Homo sapiens: one gene and its partners. The protein of the gene in region 4 purifies or fractionates together with the protein of the main gene of each other region. This does not show direct contact. Each region holds a gene or a part of one and is shown on either strand. Other genes may lie near its edges.

Evidence for each region.
Region 1: the proteins of ZNHIT6 (region 4) and INSR purify together in Homo sapiens (co-immunoprecipitation; one large-scale study listed by IntAct). This does not show direct contact.
Region 2: the proteins of ZNHIT6 (region 4) and RUVBL1 purify together in Homo sapiens (co-immunoprecipitation; 4 studies listed by BioGRID and IntAct, with this or other methods). This does not show direct contact.
Region 3: the proteins of ZNHIT6 (region 4) and NOTCH2 purify together in Homo sapiens (co-immunoprecipitation; one large-scale study listed by IntAct). This does not show direct contact.

What each region holds. Positions count from the first base shown.
Region 1 is NC_000019.10:7,115,492-7,120,069, forward strand, and holds part of INSR (insulin receptor isoform Long preproprotein), read right to left. Parts: intron 4,093-4,578; coding exon 3,958-4,092; intron 1,920-3,957; coding exon 1,565-1,919; 3' UTR 1-1,564. UniProt on the Homo sapiens protein: Receptor tyrosine kinase which mediates the pleiotropic actions of insulin.
Region 2 is NC_000003.12:128,102,390-128,106,967, forward strand, and holds part of RUVBL1 (ruvB-like 1), read right to left. Parts: intron 2,536-4,578; coding exon 2,384-2,535; intron 1-2,383. UniProt on the Homo sapiens protein: Possesses single-stranded DNA-stimulated ATPase and ATP-dependent DNA helicase (3' to 5') activity; hexamerization is thought to be critical for ATP hydrolysis and adjacent subunits in the ring-like structure contribute to the ATPase activity.
Region 3 is NC_000001.11:119,964,240-119,968,817, reverse strand, and holds part of NOTCH2 (neurogenic locus notch homolog protein 2 isoform 1 preproprotein), read left to right. Parts: intron 1-585; coding exon 586-741; intron 742-1,196; coding exon 1,197-1,385; intron 1,386-2,328; coding exon 2,329-2,442; intron 2,443-3,251; coding exon 3,252-3,365; intron 3,366-4,578. UniProt on the Homo sapiens protein: Functions as a receptor for membrane-bound ligands Jagged-1 (JAG1), Jagged-2 (JAG2) and Delta-1 (DLL1) to regulate cell-fate determination.
Region 4 is NC_000001.11:85,704,724-85,710,320, reverse strand, and holds the start of ZNHIT6 (box C/D snoRNA protein 1), read left to right. Parts: upstream 1-1,887; 5' UTR 1,888-2,036; coding exon 2,037-2,692; intron 2,693-3,813; coding exon 3,814-3,879; intron 3,880-3,965; coding exon 3,966-4,072; intron 4,073-4,157; coding exon 4,158-4,243; intron 4,244-5,597. UniProt on the Homo sapiens protein: Required for box C/D snoRNAs accumulation involved in snoRNA processing, snoRNA transport to the nucleolus and ribosome biogenesis.

The DNA of each region.
Region 1 (4,578 bases), on a different chromosome or scaffold from region 4:
GTACTGAGGACCGTCAGATGCTCTCAGGGTGGAGGGGACCAAGACGTACTCTCAGTGCACCTCTCTCTTACATTGCTTAGATGTTCCCAAAGTCCATCCAGGTTGTTGTGCTTTGGGATCTGACGTTCTTGGGTTTGCACAATAACGGTTAGGATGTTCACACCCGGGAGAGGAAACGCCACAAGAGGTACACACAGAGAATCAGAGGATGAACACAGGTGTTCTTGAAGGCAGGCTCAGAGCTAGGTAGCTACCAGCTTATCCGAACAGGAACCTTCCAGCAGACCTGGTACCTGAACCAGACCATCCATAAAACCTAGTCTCTCACACACTCCACGTGGCCTCACAACATCCAAAAGTGTTAGCAGCGAACATGGCTTCATTCCCAGAAATGGATGCCTTTAAGACCAAACAAAGAGGCCACTTGTGCCTGACTCCCTCCCCTTCCCGGCCCCACAACAGGCAGACCAACTCATGTCCCCACTCCCCGCCAACCCCGGGGAATAGTCAATAACTTATGAGGCTAATACCAGAGACTTTAAAAATTAAATATGGTACAAATATATTCTCAAAACTCTGTCATCTCAGTTCTTTTTTTTTTTCCTTTTTCCATTTTGTTTTTTCTTTCTTTTTCTTTTTTTTTTTTTAATGTCCTAGCTTGGTTTGGTCTTGAAAAGATTCATAATCACTCCAAATGAAATGCTCCTCCCTTGGCCACCAATGTGAAGGGAGGGTAGAAACCTGAGGCTAGACTTCTGACACAAGAAGAATCTGTCGAGAGCACAGTCTCCCAGTCAATAAGAAGGAAGGAGAGAGGGGGATGAGCTCGCACCCTTGAGAAGAACCTTCATGAGCCAATTCCCAAAGCATCAACTCCGCATGGATACTTTGCACACACATCAGCCGTGTCTAATGGACACACACACGTGCATACACACGTGAGCACACGCCGGGACCACAGACCCTTATCCAAAATATGAAAGCAGCAGCTATTGGTCAATTTGAGGAACTCATTTTGTAAAGAAAAAAAAAATCCTTCAGCCTGGATGAGAGAAAAAAAAAAAACCAAAAAAACCATCTTGAAGCTCAACCTGTAAAACTTGAAATTCTCCTGGAACAGGGCTGGGTGTTTTTGTTTTGTTTTTTCTTTCGAACTTTTGTTCCACAAACAGGAAGTTTTGTCTTTTATACTGAAGCTCAGACACCAGCAAAAAAAAAAAAAAAAAAAAAGAATTTGTAAAAACAGGTGCTTTCTTTCCATCTGCTGGGGGCGGGTGGGGGGAACGAAAAAACACAAAATCCTGGTTTGAAACCGTCGTTGCCCCAAAGGAGCAGCAACTGTGGAAACCCCTTGCCCTCCAGGTTCACAGTTAAATCCTCTGCAGGACTAGTTAAATTGGTAACCAAACGAGTCCACCTTAAGATGAACAGAAATGTATAGGAACGATCTCTGAACTCCATTGGACATGGTAGAGTCGTGAGAATCCTGAGTTTTCCAGAGGCTTTCAAACCAGAGGAAAGCGAAAATGGGAACCCCTGCCCGCCCCCGCCACGGTAGGCACTGTTAGGAAGGATTGGACCGAGGCAAGGTCAGAATCCGCCCGTTTTTCTTGCCTCCGTTCATGTGTGTGTAAGGGATGTGTTCCTCGTAGCTCCGCTTGAAACCCAGCGAGGACCCTCCATCCCGGCCCCCCGCCTCCTCCCTCTGACAGTGCGAGGAACGGTCCAGGGGCACATTCTCCATGTCCTCAAACTCCATCTCCAGCTCCTCACTCTCGGGAGCCTTGTTCTCCTCGCTGTGGAAGAACGACACCTCTGGAAAGCTGGGGTGCAGGTCGTCCTTGAGCAGGTTGACAATCTCCAGGAAGGTTGGCCTCATCTTGGGGTTGAATTGCCAGCACATGCGCATGAGGTCAGTGCTGCGGGGCAGAAGGACACGTCCTGGGTGAGTCTGGGGGCCCTGCCACGCATCCTCCCAAACCCCCACTCTTGTCCCTGCAGCCGACACCCACGGACCACATGTGCTCACATCAGATGCTGGCTGTGTGTGTGGACAATTGTCAAGGCAGAAATAGCATTGCTAGAGGTGCTGAGAGATGGTGTTTTCTTTTTGCTTTTCTTCTTCTTATTTTGGACACAGCGTCTCATTCTGTCACCCAGGCTGGAGTGCAGTGGCATGATCATAGCTCACTGCAGCCTCTGCCTCCTAGGCTCGAGCAATCCTCTCACCTTGGCCTCCCAAGTAGCTGGGACCACAGGTGTGCACCACCATGCCTAGCTAATTTTTGTATTTTTTGCAGAGACAGGGTTTTGCTATGTTGCCCAGGCTGGCCTCAAACTCCTAGGCTCAAATGATCCACCCACCTTGGCCTCCCAAGGTGCTGGGATTACAGGTGTTAGCCACCATGCCTGGCCGCTTTTTTTTTTTTTTGAGACAGGGTTTCTCACTTTGTCACCCAGGATGGAGTGCAGTGGCGCAATCATAGCTCATTGCAGCCTTGAACTCCTGGGCTCAAGCCATCCTCCTGCCTCAACCTCCCAAAGTGCTGAGGTTCCAGGCATGAGCCATCCTGTCCAGCCTGAAAGATGGTTTTGAAAAGGGATTCCTCATTTCAAAACTGGCTCAAGAGTAATCCCAGCACTTTGGGAGGTTGAGCCAGGAGGCTGAGTCCAGGAGTTCAAGGTTGCAGTGAGCTGTGATTGTGCCACTGCGCTCTACCAGCCTGGGTGACACAGCGAGACTTCATCTAAATATATATATATGTACATATGCATATATATTTGGAGGGGGGAATATATAATATGTATGCCTGACAAAATTTTTGTGTGTCTGTGTTTGTTTTTGAGACAGAATCTCACTCTGTCACCCATGCTGCAGTGCAATGGTGCAGTCTCTGCTCACTGCAACCTCTGCCTCCCCGATTCAAGCAATTCTCCTGCCTCAGCCTCCTGAGTAGCTGGGATTACAGGCGCCCACGACCGCGCCTGGGTAATTTTTATATTTTTAATAGAGGCGGGGTTTCACCATGTTGGCCAGGCTGGTCTTGAACTCCTGACCTTAGGTGATCGTTCACCTCGGTCTCCCAAATTGCTTGGGATTACAGGCGTGAGCCACCCATGCCCAGCTACCTGACAAAATTTTAAGTGTATAAAGAATTAACAGGCGGCTGTAATCCCAGCACTTTGGGAAGCCAAGGTGGGTGGATCACGAGGTCAGGAGATCGAGACCACGGTGAAACCCCATTTCTACTAAAAATACAAAAAAAAAAAAAAATTAGCCAGGCGCGGTGGTGGGTGCCTGTAGTCCTAGCTACTCGGGAGGCTGAGGCAAGAGAATGGTGTGAACCCGGGAGGCGGAGCTTGAAGTCAGCCGAGCTCGCACCACTGCACTCCAGCCTGGGTGACAGAGCAAGATTCCGTCTCAAAAAAAAAAAAAAAAAAAAAAAAATTAACAGGCAAACAGGTCTCTCTCCCCCAACCCCAGGTCTCCAGTTCCCTTCTCCCAAGATAACTACCGCTATAGGTGTTTTGTGCAACCTTCCAAAGATACAATATGCAAGAAAATCATATGATTTGTGAACACAAGCAGGCAGGTAAAGACATAATATGTAAACATGTGTGCTTATAATATGTAAATGAGGTGTACATGTGCCATGATATGCTGATGCACACAGAAACATATAATATGCAAACATAAATACCTATGTAAATATATAATATGCAAACGTAAGCGTACATGTAGCACATATGGGAACTCAAGTGTGTGTACCACAATGCAATATGCAAATGCAAGCATGCATGTAAAGACAAGCTATGCAAACACAAACACACCTGTAACATACAGCATGCAAACACGGTGAGCGTGTAGACATAGGAAAGGCAAAACCAAGCACACGTGTAAAGGGCAATACCCTTTCAACGAACACCTCACACACCTTAAACCCTTTCTACACTTACACTCTCTCTGGACAGTTGTCGGGTTGATCCAGATACCCTCCATCCATGACAAATTTCAACACCTGTTCATTAGACAGGCCTTGGTAAGGCTGTTCTGCCAAGCTGGTGATTTCCCAAAGGACCACGCCAAAGGACCTGCCGATGACAGTTGATAGTAGTAACAAAGAAGCCATTTAGACACACACACACACGCGCGCGCGCAAACACACACACGCAAACGCACACACACACGCAAACACACATGCCAACACATACATGCAAACACACACATGCAAACACACACGCACATACACGTGCACACACATGCAAATACACACAAACACGCATGCGCACACATGCACACACAAATATGCAAACACACAAACACATATACACACACAAACACACACACCCAAACACACACACGCACACACATGCAAACACACACAAACACACATATGCACACACATACACACACAAACACACACACAAACACATCTCTTGGTTTCTAGAACATGGTTAGCCACTTAATAAAACAATTCATGCTGCAGTTCATAAATGCTGTGAAAGGAAAATCAATTTGGGGCTCCCAAATCACTAAACTCAAGGAAAAAGTCCAGCTAGGAACTGCTTGGACAAACC
Region 2 (4,578 bases), on a different chromosome or scaffold from region 4:
CTCCAGATTCTGGTGACCCTCAGTGATTAATATTCTAGGACAGCTGCCTTTGTAAGGATTCTATAGTTAAACACAAGTTTCTCGAGGTCTTCATGGAGATCTATGTTATACAATGTAGCTATGGTGGAAAAAAAACTTGGGCTTTGCCCAAACAAAATTAAAAAGTGAAAACCCAGGACTTGGTGAAAGAAGCCAGATACAAAAAAAGACATACACTGTATGTTCCATTTATATGAAATGTCCAAAAGAAGGCAACCGAAAGTAGATTAGTAGTTGCCGAGGGCTATAGTTGGAATGGGGAATGACTGTAAATGAGTAGGAGGATTCTTTTTGGGGCGATGAAAATGTTCTGAAATTAAGATTGTGGTGATTGTACAACTGTGAAAATAAATTAAAATTCCTGGAATTGTATACTTAAAATGGGTGAGTTTTATTTAAAATGCTATCTGAATAAAGCTTTTAAAAAACTACCACCACAGCAGCAAACCCAGGGTTCTGCCTCTCCTTAGCTGGGTGGGGACGGCAGACCCTGGCAGAACTGCTGTGAGTCTGTGCGCCTAAGGACAAAAGTGGGTGAGGCCCCCAGGTAAGGCCTGGCAGGAAGGGGTCATGAGTACTAATGGCATTCTCGTTGCTAGAACTCAGAAGACTCCTTCAGACTTGAATATCCACCAAGTATTTGAGCACCTTCTATCCAAATATCTTGTACATATTCTAAAAATACCTAAAAGTATTCATTTTGGAAGAAAAATTTCATCTTCTCCTCTACATTATTTTTGTAAAGAAACTGTACAAAGCAGTGTTACAAATAGCTGAAATTTAAACTGTACGCCTTATTTTATCTGTCCTACATTGGAGAATATACTTCTTTTTTGCCTCAAGCATTTTTATATCGGTTAATTTCCCAAATGAATTGACTGAAGATGTAATTACTGGAAAGGTGGCAGATGCTACTGAGAAATCTAATTAATTCAGAATGGAAGTGACGAGGGGTAGGTATAAAAGAGATATTTGCAGAGGCAAGTTCCTGAGATGGAAACCCTGTTAGGAAAAAGAAAAATGGCCCTTTGAAGAAGTGACATTTTTATGATCTCCATAAAGCAGTGACCAAGAAACAACCTCAGAGAATCAAAGAACCATAAAATCGTAGAACAGAATAAAAATGGAGAAATTATATGGTCAATCTCCTGCAGTTTATAGATGAGAAAACTGAGTCCCAGAGAGCTCAACTGACTTCCAAAGGTCACACAGCAAGCTGGTGGGCAGACAGTACAACGGTTAGGACTCAGAGGGTCAGCTCTGCCACATGACTGGCTGGATGATCCCAGGATAACCATGTAACCTCTTTATGAGCCTTCATCTGTTAACATGAGGAAAACTATACACACATACACACACGCAAACATATACACATATAAAGTTATGAATGACAATAAATGTTTGTTGAAGCACTTAGTCCAAGGCCTGACACATACAATAAATGAGAGCTATAATGATAATATTTATTAATAATAATAAGGCAAAGCCTAAAATCCAGACTGCTCCATTTCTCCAAGTGAAGGCTCTCACGATAACATTAACAGCTATCATTCATTAGGTAACTAGGTGCCACACCCAAAGCCATAACCCTGAAAGACAGGCAATTATTATTCCCATTCAACAAATAAAGAAACTACTACTCAGAGATTAATGCCACACAGTTGTAAGTAACAAAGCCAGGGATTCCTTAAGGACTTAGACTCCAAAACTCATGCTCTTCCCCTAGAAACTCTACTGCCTCCATCCTAAAGACTTACAGGACAGGTGGCTGAGGACTGTCTTTGAGCGCTATCCAGTGTCACCATTCTGGCCTCTCCACAAAGCCCTGTACTAAACAGAACCAGCCACTGAAGCGACCACAGGTTCCTGACACAAGCAACTGCAGTCAGGATTCTGCATGTGGCCCCTGGGAAGCCCATCCATCATCTTTATACAACTCTTATTTGATTACTCAATGCTGTTTCTTTCTATGAGCATGGGCACTGATAACTGGAAAAATTAATGCCCAGGTTCAGACCCAGCCCAGGGTATTTGATGCATGGTCATAATATGGGACATGGGATGGCAGAGGCAGTTTCTTGACTTAACCACACAGCTCACATTTTAACATGCAGAGTTTCCTAGGAGTAAGTAAGAAAAGAGCTATCTTCCTTGAGTCCTCCTATGTGCAAGCCCTATGCTAGGTACCGCTTTATACACACAATATCCTCAACCAATTCTGTGAGAAATCAATACCTGCAGTGCACAGGTCAGGAAACTGGGATGCAGAGAGGTTACACCACCTGCCCAAAGCCACACAGTGCTGGGAGAGTCAAGGGAAAAGAGGCCACATACATGTACTCACTTTCAACTGTTTGGTTCCTTTGGCTGTTTTGAGTCCTATGATCACATGGCTAATGGTTTTGCCATATCCTCCCATGGGATTCTCTGTCTCACACGGAGTTAGCTCTGTGACTTCACCTTCATAAACTTCCTTGGTCTCCTTTATTCGCAGCCCTGGAAGAGGTGGCAGAGGGGCCATGGTGAGAAGCAGAATCTTTTCTCTCACACTGAGAGCCCAAAACTTCCATGTCACCAGAACTGCCAAATCAACCTTAATAATGTACATTCCAGGGTGTCATGATGGGTAAAAAGGCAATACAAACATATCAATGTAAATTAGAGGCACTATTAGAAATGCAACTTTTTTTTTTTTTTTTTTTGAGATAGAGTCTCGCTCTGTTGCCCAGGCTGGAGTGCAGTGGCACGATCTCGACTCACTGCAACCTCTGCCTCCCCGGTTCACTCCATTCTCCTGCCTCAGCCTCCAGCCTCCCGAGTAGCTGGGACTACAGGCGCCCGCCACCACGCCCGGCTAATTTTTTTGTATTTTTGGTAGGGACAGGGTTTCACCATGTTAGCCAGGATGGTCTTGATCTCCTGACCTCATGATCTACCCTCCTCGGCCTCCCAAAGTGCTGGGTTATAGGTGTGAGCCACCACACCCGGCCTAGAAATGCAACTTTTTAAGGGAACTTTCTAGGTTCAAATCCAGAACTAGATAGACAAGTTATAATTCTTAAAATTGTCTGCTTCATTTCCAAGGGGGTGAAATTTACCTTTAGCCTTTAATCCAGTCTCTGAACCCACACTATTCTATTCCACCAGAACAGTGGCTATCAAAACTCCTGTAGCCTTGTTTCCTGAATTTCTGACTCTCAAAGGAAATCTTAAAACCAGTGGAATAACTCATTACACACCCTCTGACACTATGAAACCTGAGCAGAACATACTAAAATAATTAGGTATCTATGTCAACAGTGGGTGACACTCAAAACTGCCAGGTGTTATGGGCCTCTGGCTCTCACTGCATACTCCAAGAAGAAATACCCAGTTGTCATGCATTATTTGCAATGTGTTGCTCTACAATTTTCTTTCTTTCTTTCTTTCCCTTTTTCTTTTTTTTTTTTTTTTTTTTTTGAGATAGAATCTCATTCTGTCACCCAGGCTGGAATGCAATGGTGCGAACTTGGCTCACAGCAAGCTCCGCCTCCCAGGTTCAAGTGATTCTCCTGCCTCAGCCTCCCAAGTAGCTGGGATTACAGGCGTGCACCACCACATCTGGCTAATTTTTGGGGTTTTTTTGTACTTTTAGTAGAGATAGGTTTCACCATGTTGGCCAGACTGGTCTTGAACTCCTGACCTCAGGTGATCCACCCACCTTGGCCTCCCAAAGTGCTGGGATTACAGGTGTGAGCTACCATTCCCAGCTGCTCTACAGTTTTTCTAAGGCCATAACAACAAAACCAATTTCCAAAGCACCTTACATTAGAATATTGCAAATAAAGGTAAATTTCTCTCTGAATTCTAAACATCATCCACATTAGCTCTTTAATAAACGTTTGTTCATTATCCAAGAATCATTGTTAAATTAACTTTTAGAACGTGATCTCTATGTTCATTACATGCTTTTGCATATAACGGTTCTGCTTCCTGAACCACTCTTTTTAGCTTAGGCAACTCCTCCTAGCAGACTCAGTTTAAAACGTATCCCCCCCCCCTTCACACATTCTTCTTCCTCATCCTCCAAATTGTCCCCATGGTGACCTGTGTTTCCACTGGCACAGCAGCAGCCCACGGCAATGCCATAACTTGCAGACCTTGCCTACCCCTCTGCAGATTGCCCACACCTGAGCTGAGGGCACAGCACATAGGCAGGTAGAGTGAATGGATGAATGAATGAAGTCACTAAGAGTGAAGGGGTTGTCATTAGGCACATCATCTACTAATAATACCCAAGAAACGAACCTGCAGATACATTTACATGTTCTATATGGTAATGGCCTGAGAACTCTAAGGAGTCAGCCATGTAATGTTATAGCCTGTATCACCGAAACACCCTCAACCTCAGCACTAAAAGCCAGGCATAACTGAACTGTACTGTTAGAAATCAAGACTACCATTAACTTGGGGAAGGAAGGATGGCAACTGGGAGTGGACATCAAGGGTACCTTGGAGTTCTGGCAACATTCCCTTTTTTGATTAGCTGCTGGTTTCACG
Region 3 (4,578 bases), about 34 Mb from region 4:
CCAGTTCCCATGTGAACTATATAAAACAGGAAGCCTAGTAATATCTTCAGAGACCTGGGGCCACCTGAATCAGGAATGTTGATGCTATTAAAAGATTACTCTAGTAGAGGCTGATGGTGTTCAGGTGGCCCCATGATCATCAGGTAGCATAATATTGGGGAAGTAGGATTCCGGATAAAATATAGGATGTATGGAATATTTGAGACATACTAAAAATTACTTCTTGTTTATCTAAAATTCAACTGGACATCCTCTATTTTATTTGCTAAATCTGGCACACTATCTGGAAGATAGCTCCACTTTCCTGTCTCCGTCTTCTTATCTTCTGGCCTGTAGATGTCTCTGTCCTGGAGGAGAGGTCTAGCTGAGAGCTCAGGGTCAGAGTCTAGGGTTGCATCTAGGTGCTTTGCTGGTGGCCAAGCATGTCCCCAAGGTAGGGTCAGGCAAAGCAGAAGTTGCGTATAAATCTCCATGTTGGATTCTGAGGAACTGATCATGAGGTTTTCCCTCCTGGGTGAAAGAGAAAGCTCTTCCCCAAGTGAGAGACATTTTCTCTTAGTTGTCCTTTGCCCCACCCTGTGACAGGTCTCCTGTGTCATCTGGATGATGCATGCATCAGCAATCCTTGCCACAAGGGGGCACTGTGTGACACCAACCCCCTAAATGGGCAATATATTTGCACCTGCCCACAAGGCTACAAAGGGGCTGACTGCACAGAAGATGTGGATGAATGTGCCATGGGTGAGTAAGCAGAACTTTTTCTGTTCTGTGAAGTGTCTGTTGAGCTCAGCAAATGTTTAAACTGAAGCACATTTTACTGTAGAAGCAAATTACATACACCCAAACCTCAGATTACTCTTGCTACATGGCCAGTGTTTACAAGTGACCTTTCAGCATAGCCATAACCATATATTCCATTCTGGGGATTAACTGTATGAAACGTATGTACTTGATTCTTAATATAAAGCCCTACCTCAATGACAGTTTGGGCAGAAACTGCAATAGCAGAAATGCATAACAGTTGAGGATACTCCGCTTTTATTTCTTTTTAAATTAAGGAAAAAAAAATAGAAAATTGGGAATGATATTATTGAAGGCCTGGCCCTGATGCTATAACCATCAGATGCTCTTCTATTGTTCACATTTGTGGAAACTCAACTGCTTTGATCCCAGTAATTGGTACTTGTGTCTTTCAGCCAATAGCAATCCTTGTGAGCATGCAGGAAAATGTGTGAACACGGATGGCGCCTTCCACTGTGAGTGTCTGAAGGGTTATGCAGGACCTCGTTGTGAGATGGACATCAATGAGTGCCATTCAGACCCCTGCCAGAATGATGCTACCTGTCTGGATAAGATTGGAGGCTTCACATGTCTGTGCATGCCAGGTAAATGGGCCCATCAGCATGTTGGGTCTAGAGAGGAGGGACTGTTCTGAACTTCTCTTGGTAGAGCATTCAGTATACTATTGCAGTCTGATGAGCTCTGTCAGCATTTGATTTCCTTTGCTGACTGGGGACTAGAGGAAGTCAGGGTTCACAAGCAAACCTTCCTTACTCAAAGAGTAAGGCAGTGCTAGAATTCATCAAGCTATGTAGACCAAATTAAACAAGCCTGTTATATCAAAATCCACATGTAATAGAAAATTTCAAAAATGATTTACTGTAAGAATCCTTTAAATAGCAAGTTTTCCTGATACCTTCATGTAATTACAAATACCATACCATTCCATTTATATAAATAAATTTTATCCACAATTATATAGGAAGTTTCCATTTATCTAAAGTGCAGTACATGTTTAGTTGTATTCTGGAGCTCTTCTGCATAGACCATGTCTTTAATTTTGAGAGGATACAGCCAAATCCAGCTTGAAATGATGGCTAACATTGGCTGCTCTGCCTGATTAAGGCTGCCGGCCACTCCAGCCTTGAAAGGCACTGCTGACCTTGAACTGCACCCTGAAGGCAACAACAGCTCCAGCTCAGCTTGTCTTTAGGAACATAGAGTGGGGACATTTTGGGCCTTCCACAGTCCAGAAAGTATGGATTTATCACAGAAAATGTGGAGCAGTCCTTGTTTATATGCTAGGTCTTGCCAATGTCTTTTAATGTAATCCCTTCCCGCTTTTCACAGTGACATGGGTATTTCACAGTATGCCCTGTCCTGCTTGACACTTGGAGTGACTATTTCTCATCATGGCAGAGTTCCTTTTTTCTCTGCAGAAATGTGTGTACTCGCAAAGGATGTAGTTATCATTGCAAATTTGTGCTTCCTTGTCTGGAATACACCTTTCTCTCTCTTTAAGCCACTTGTGTGGTCTGTTTTGTTTAGGTTTCAAAGGTGTGCATTGTGAATTAGAAATAAATGAATGTCAGAGCAACCCTTGTGTGAACAATGGGCAGTGTGTGGATAAAGTCAATCGTTTCCAGTGCCTGTGTCCTCCTGGTAAGTGCCCACGACCTGGCCCTGTTTTCTCTTAAAGCACAAAGCCAACTGACCACAGGGAAGAGAGCAGGGAGAGAATGTGTGTGGGCTGTGCATGAGGAAATCATTAGAGTAAGTGCTTGGTGATAGGAGTGTGTGTGTACAGAAATAGAGAATTTGTTTTAGCTACTATATCTTACAAGTCCTTTGTGGCCAAAAGTCCAAGTCTATTCTTGAATGGCCCATGACCTCTTCGTCTGTGTATATATTTCAGAATGCTCATACCTCACAGAAGCCTTAGTTGTAGGCTATTCGGGATTTTATTTTTTTCCCATGGGTCATATTCTTGAAGGCCCTCTGTGAGACTGTTATTTTTAGACATTTCACCCATGAGTTCAGAAACAGACAACACATGCCAATTTTTCCAAGATTCTCTGTCTCTCCTTTTTTTTCCTCAAGCTATTTTTGAAGATATGCCAAATTGTCCTCCATAGATTGCATCTTACCCCATTGTATCTTCAGAGAGAAGGTTTCTGTTGCCTCTGAAGCTACAGTTACTTGTTTGAGGTTCCACCTATAAATTTCACTTCCTACATCCTTCATTTAGAAGTGAAGTCTGTCTGTGAAGAAGCAATGGTAGAGACACACCACAAGTGCCTCTGATTCCCTGAGTGTCACCTGGTTATTCCAGTTACCTGTTGGGGAGAATAATAAAGCATAGGCTTATTGACCCATTGGTATAAGCCCTGCTAGTAACCTAACATCATTCTCATGGTAAAGGGAGACACAAGATAATCCTTTGACTCATGTTACCACTGTCCCTTTTTGAGGTTTCACTGGGCCAGTTTGCCAGATTGATATTGATGACTGTTCCAGTACTCCGTGTCTGAATGGGGCAAAGTGTATCGATCACCCGAATGGCTATGAATGCCAGTGTGCCACAGGTAAGATTCTTCTCACTTTTCATCTCCTTGGTAGGTCCATCTGAACAAAATAGGGTGATTGTCCCTGTCCTCTGCTAGCTGCTGTGCCAGGCCAGTCCACTCCCAGAGGCTCCTCTGTGTTTAGGAAGAGCTGTTTCTAACAAATTTTTTGCTGCTCTCTTTTTCTGCAGCACCTGCCTCCTCCACCACAACAGTGGTCTGGCCCAGATATTTCCATTTGGTATCCATGTCTTTCTGGGACAGATTTTGGCAGCAGTAAGTTTCCAGCTGGCTAGATTGACTCATTTAGGAAAGAGAAGAAATCCAGTTGAAAGCTATTTTTCACTGGGGCTTCTCAGCAGGAGGCCTGGCTCTGTGTTTCTTGAAGCAAGTGACTGAAAGAAGGCCCAGAAATTTAAAGGCTGAATGTGTACAAGTGCAGGGGTATTCTGCATAAAAGACACCAAAATAGGATTGAGAGTCAAGTGTGTAAATGACAGGAGAGAGAGCTCTCACTGGGAAAGTTTGGGTCCTCTTTGCTGACTTCTGCAACTAGAGTCAAAAACGATCTGTGCACAAATATTCTGCATTTCTGGGTTTGTAATCACATTTTGTACTTGGGATTGGATTTCAGTAAGCCAGATGTTCCCTATTACACATTTCCTTTTACACAGGCAAATATTATACAGAAAGGCTAGAAATTATTAGAAGTGAACTTCTTTATTATCTGACTGCTTGAGAAAGAAGTTATTTATGTAATTCAAGACATTAATTTTAGAGAATGGAGTCTTAAAGATTAAAGGCATCATGCATATAATTTATTTCTGATCACAGAAAAGCAAATTTAATTGTGAAAATTAATACAAAAAGTTAATATTTTAATTATTAGACCTACTTAGTTTAGGACAACTCAGATGAGCCACTTTCTTTCTTTTTGCAAATAGTTAATGCTTGTCAGAGAATCCAGATTTTGTCTTCCCCTGGCCAGATTCTTCTTGTAGAGGATAAGTTTCAAAGAGATTAAAAACCTTTAGCTCAGGTTTAAAAGTGGGGGGAGGACTCCTGGAGTCTTTTAGGGAAAGATATAATGTTTGTCTATTTACACCTCGAAGAAAGGAAATCTTACTTGTCTCTTTTTCTTTTAAATTCTCATAACAGGTTCATTCATTTTATTCAACCAGTATTTATTTAAAACTACTATATATGCATACTACTCTCAGAGGAGTTGAGAGAA
Region 4 (5,597 bases):
AACACACGAATTTGAGGGGACACAATTCAGCCTGTAAGAGCCAGTAACTTCGGCCCACTACCACATGGGCCTCTTGGTACTCACAACCTGGCAGCTTGCTTCCCCCAGAGTGAATGATCTAGGAAGGAGACCAAAAAAGCAAGAGCCTAAGGCAGAAACCACAGCCTTTCTCCAAACCTAATCTTAGAGGTAACGTATTACTTCTGCTGTATGCTATCAGTGACACAGACCAATCCTGGGATGATGCAGGAGCAGTCTACACATTGGTCTGAACACTGTGGGGGTGGAGAATCACTGGGGAACATACTGGTGCTTGTCTACCACAAACCTATATCCATAATATATGAAGAACTACTACAATTTGATAATAAAAGACGTCAATTAAAAATGGGCAAAAGATCTGAATAAACATTTCATTAAAGAAAATATCCAAATGGCCAGTTGGCAGATGAAAAGATGTTCAACATCATTAGTCATTAAAGAAATGTAAATTCTCAATGACGTACCCCTACACATCTATAATCAAATAACTGATAATACTAAGAATTGGCCGGGATGTAGAGAAATAGGAACCCTCAGCCAGTAGGAATGTAAAATGGTATAGCTACTTTGGAAAACAGTTTGGGCATTTCTTTAAAAATTAACATAAATTTATATGGCCCAGCAATTCCACTCCTAGTTATTTACTTAACGGGAAATGTAAACATGTCCACACAAAGACTTGCATATGAATGTGGAAGCAGAATTATTCGTAATAGCCCAAACTGGAAACAAGCCAAATGCCCACCAACTGGTACATGCATGAAAAAACGTGCCACATTCATACAATGCAATGTTATTCAGCAATACCGGGCATTAGGCACTTTCGCCTAATATATTTATGATGTTCTCTGAGAGAATCCTGCAGAATGCTGGGAATGGGGAATAGCCTGACGCAGGCTGTTACTTAGAAAGAATGGAAAGAAAAATTAATGCCCTCTTTCCTACTTGAAACCCATCATGATTCCCAGTTATACACTGAGTTTGTGTCTGTCACTGACAGTTGATTCCTATGCATGATCTCATATTATCTTCGCAATGACACTGGGAGATTTATATTAATAATACCATGCTCCCTAGTTTATAGCTTCAAGAAACTAAAGCTTGCAAAGGTGTAACATCAGGTGTGTCCTTTTTCATACAAGATTGGATTTAATGGTTAACACAGATAAGGGTGGGTTTTCCCATTTCCAGAGTGTAAGGGTTTCGCTTCTCTCCCTCTGCCGGTCTCCTCCACTGTTTACACCCAGTAGGGCGTGGAGGGTGGCCTAGGGTGTGGCCCAGGAGGCTTCCCTAAGGGAAGGGGGTGGTGGAAACCAGGCGGTTTGAAGCCCATCAGGATTCCCAGTTATATATCGAGTTTGTGTCCGTCACTGCTAGTTGATTTCCATGCATGATCTCATATAATCTTTGCAATGACACTGGGAGATTTATATTAATAATACCATGGTCCCTAGTTTATAGCTTTAAGAAACTAAAGCTTGGAAAGGCCTAATAACATCAGGTGTGTCCTCCATTTTCATGCAAGATTGGATTTAATGGTTAACACAGATTAGGGTGGGTTTTCCCACTTCCAGAGTGTAAGGGTTTCGCTTCTCTCCCTCTGCCGGTCTCCTACACTCTTTACACCCAGCAGGGCGTGGAGGGTGGCCCAGGGAGTGGCCCAGGAGGCTTCTCTAAGGGAAGAGGGTGGTGGAAACCAGGAAGGAGACGAGAACCCCAGCGGGCAAGTCACGCAGTTACGCTTGTTCGCCCAGAGAATCCGGCAGGGCCTCCGCAGAGCCGTAAAGAGCTCTACAAGTCGTGAAGGGGCGAGGCGCAAAAGCGTAGCTTTACGGCGATTCGAGCAGTCGCGTCAAGCAGGCTATTCCGGGTTTGTGGCTGCTTGGCTCCACACGTGGGCCGCCGTAGGTATTCCGACCGGTAATTCCTCCTATTGGTGTGCAGCAGCCACATTGAAGGATAGAGTGGCAGCAGAGGCCAAGGATCGTGAGTTGATGGAGTTTGCTGCTGAAAATGAAGGGAAGTCTGGGGGAGGTCTCCACAGCGTAGCTGAGGGGGTGCGGCTAAGTCCAGAGCCTGGCAGGGAGGGAGTAAGGGACTTAGCAGGGGCGGAGGAGTTCGGCGGCGGAGAGGAGGGGACAGGGCTGACAGGGATAAAGGAGATAGGGGATGGAGAGGAAGGAAGTGGACAAAGGCCAGAGGAAATACCGATGGACCTAACGGTAGTGAAGCAGGAAATTATAGACTGGCCAGGTACAGAAGGCAGGTTGGCTGGCCAGTGGGTAGAACAGGAGGTGGAGGATAGGCCTGAGGTGAAGGATGAGAACGCAGGCGTATTGGAGGTGAAGCAGGAGACGGATAGTAGTTTAGTGGTAAAAGAAGCGAAGGTGGGTGAACCAGAGGTAAAGGAAGAGAAGGTAAAGGAAGAGGTAATGGACTGGTCAGAAGTGAAGGAAGAGAAGGATAACTTGGAGATAAAACAGGAGGAGAAGTTTGTTGGTCAATGCATAAAAGAGGAATTGATGCATGGAGAGTGTGTAAAAGAAGAGAAGGATTTCCTGAAGAAAGAAATCGTGGATGATACAAAGGTGAAAGAAGAGCCTCCGATAAATCACCCGGTGGGCTGCAAGCGGAAACTGGCCATGTCAAGGTAGGGCATGGGGGATTCCATTTAGGGGAATAAAGCTGTGGAGTCCTCATGTCTAGAGTGAAGGAAACCACACTATCAGGAGAAGGTGGAATAATGAAAAATGAGCACAAGTTTGGGTTTCTGGAGTCAGACGGCGTTCGCGGGGGTGGGTTGGGAAGTGGAGGGTGTTGTACATGACAACACAACAAATTCAGTGAAAATACATGAAATTAGTAGTGTCCAATGGGTAATGGTCAAGTTAGGAAAGTGGAAATTCTGGGGACCAAAAGATCAGTTGGAACTGGATCTGGCTTGACTTAATATGCTCTTTACTCGGTATTCCTTTGAGAGAGAATAGAGATGAGAAAGTCTAATAAAACTAACAATGACAAAGTAGATTAAGTTAAAACTAGGCAAAAATACACTTGACCTCAATTATCAAGCTTCTTCATGGGTGCTGTGAATATTTATTGCTTTTGATTGAATTTCCTTAGTGTGTGGATCATGTGACAAAGGAAATAAGAGTAGTCAGATTCTTGAGAATATTCCCGTCTAGAACACAGTGGGCTAAATAGAAGTAACTGTAGTTTGGTTGTCAGTATCCCAGGAGCATAGAAGAGCAGTTGAGGACAGATGATGGGTTACATGGCATTTCTAGATTATTTCGATGCTCATTCTAGATTAGGCGTGGAGTTCAGGAAAAAGGGTGCTACTACTACTCTCTAAATTTCACTTGGCCTTATATTCTTTGTCTGGTGTGTGCTTTAAAAATATCTAAACATAGCTCATGAATTGGACTTCTGGATACACACACATACAATCATTACCACATTTCCAGGAATCACAAGTTAAAATATCAGTGAATAATCTCATTCCCTGATTATAGTAGAAAAAGAAGTCAAAAGCGAGATGGGTTTTAAAAATTTTAATACATTTTCCTGAGTTACATATCACTAACAACATTGGAAATGTAGTTGTTTTGGGAAGGTTTCATAGAGAAGAATTTTCAAATGATGTTCAACAGCTATCAAATATTTTATCAGTTACTTGTCACTGAGTTTATAAATTGATTGGGAATTCTAAGTTTATAAATAAATACAATTAATATTTGATAATTTAATGTTACATGTGGGCTTTTGTAGGTGTGAGACTTGTGGTACAGAAGAAGCAAAGTACAGATGTCCACGTTGTATGCGATATTCCTGCAGGTATACATGTAACTTCCTACCTTTTAACCTGTATCTGTACCTTTCTTACCCTAAAATATAAAAGTACTTCCCCTTTGTCTTTTCAGTTTGCCCTGTGTAAAGAAACACAAAGCAGAACTGACATGTAATGGAGTTCGAGATAAAACTGCATACATTTCAATACAACAGTTTACTGAAATGAATCTCCTAAGTGGTAAGCCACTTTATGCATAGCAAATTGAGGCTTCCTGGCCATTGGTATATGTCACTTGTTTATTCTTCTGTTTTGAAATTTTTAGATTATCGATTTTTGGAAGATGTGGCAAGAACAGCGGACCATATTTCTAGAGATGCTTTTTTGAAGAGACCAATAAGCAATAAATATGTAAGATTTTTTCCTAATTTCTTCCAGTTAGAAGTCCTTCAAATCAATTAGATTCTTTTTTTTTTTTTAACTTACCAAATATATTAAGTGGCTACCATGATGTAGAGCTATTCTGATTACTTAAGGATATGGCTGTGACCCAAACAAAGTCCGTCCCCTCGTGGAGTTGTATTTAGTGGGAGATATAGGAGATAAGTAGAGGAACAAATGTAATTTCAGATAGAGTTAAGTTCATATAGAAAATAAAGAAGGCTCAAGAGATTAAAGAGAGAATGAAAATGGTCTTTGTTGGGGAGAGATTGTCAGGGTACTATTTTCGATACAGTGGTCAGGAGAAGCTTCTCAAAGAGATGATGTGTAAGCAGTGATCTGAGTGCTGAGAAAGAGGCTGTCATGTGAACATTTGGAGGCAGATTATCCCAGGTAGGGACAAAAGTAAAAGGAAAGACCTGAGTCAGAAACAAGGATGTCTGGTTTGAGGAATTAAAAGATTTGCAAGGTAACTGAAGCATAGTGAGTGAGGAGGAGAGTATTGAAAATGAAGTTAGAGAAACTGGTGAGGAGTTGGGTGCAGTGGCTCATGCCTGTAATCCAAACACTTTGGGAGGCTGAGGCCAGAGCATTCCTTGAGCTCAGGAGTTCAAGACCAGCCTGGGCAACATGGTGAAAACCCGTCTCTATAAAACAATACAAAAATTAGCCAGGCGTGGTGGCGTGCCCCTGTACTCCCAGCAACTTGAGAAGCTGAGGTGGGAGGATCACCAGAGCCCAGGAAGGTCAAGGCTGCAGTGAGCCATGATTGCGCCACTACACTCCAGCCTGGGCAACAGAGTGAGACTCTGTCTCAAAAGAAAAAAGAAAAGAAACTGGTGAGGGTTTCTAATTCTAAGTGCAAATGGAAACCATGGAAGGGTTTTGAACATAAATTTGCCTTTTGAAAAACCACTCTTGCACTTTGTGAACTTTAGCGGGGCAAGAATGGAAGATTGGAAGCAGGGAGACCAATTATGCAGCTCTTCCCATGATCCTTGTGAGATAATAGTGGCTTGGGTGTACTGTTTGAATTATTGGGAAGGGATTAGATTGCGATTTTGAAGGAAGAGCTAACAAGACTTGCTATTCTAATACACTTAATTTTCATACTCTTGCATTCCTTTTTTAATTCCTTAAATACTATGCAAAATTAAAGCTTACATATTTGGAATATTTGGCAACTGGTGTTGTAGAAATTTGTTTATGGTGTGATTAAATCGTATCCTGGAATTGTGTTCATTTTAGTATTGGAGTTGCAGAATTTTAATACCTTTTAAACACCTTATTTTATTGGTATTATTGGTACAGACATAATTACATT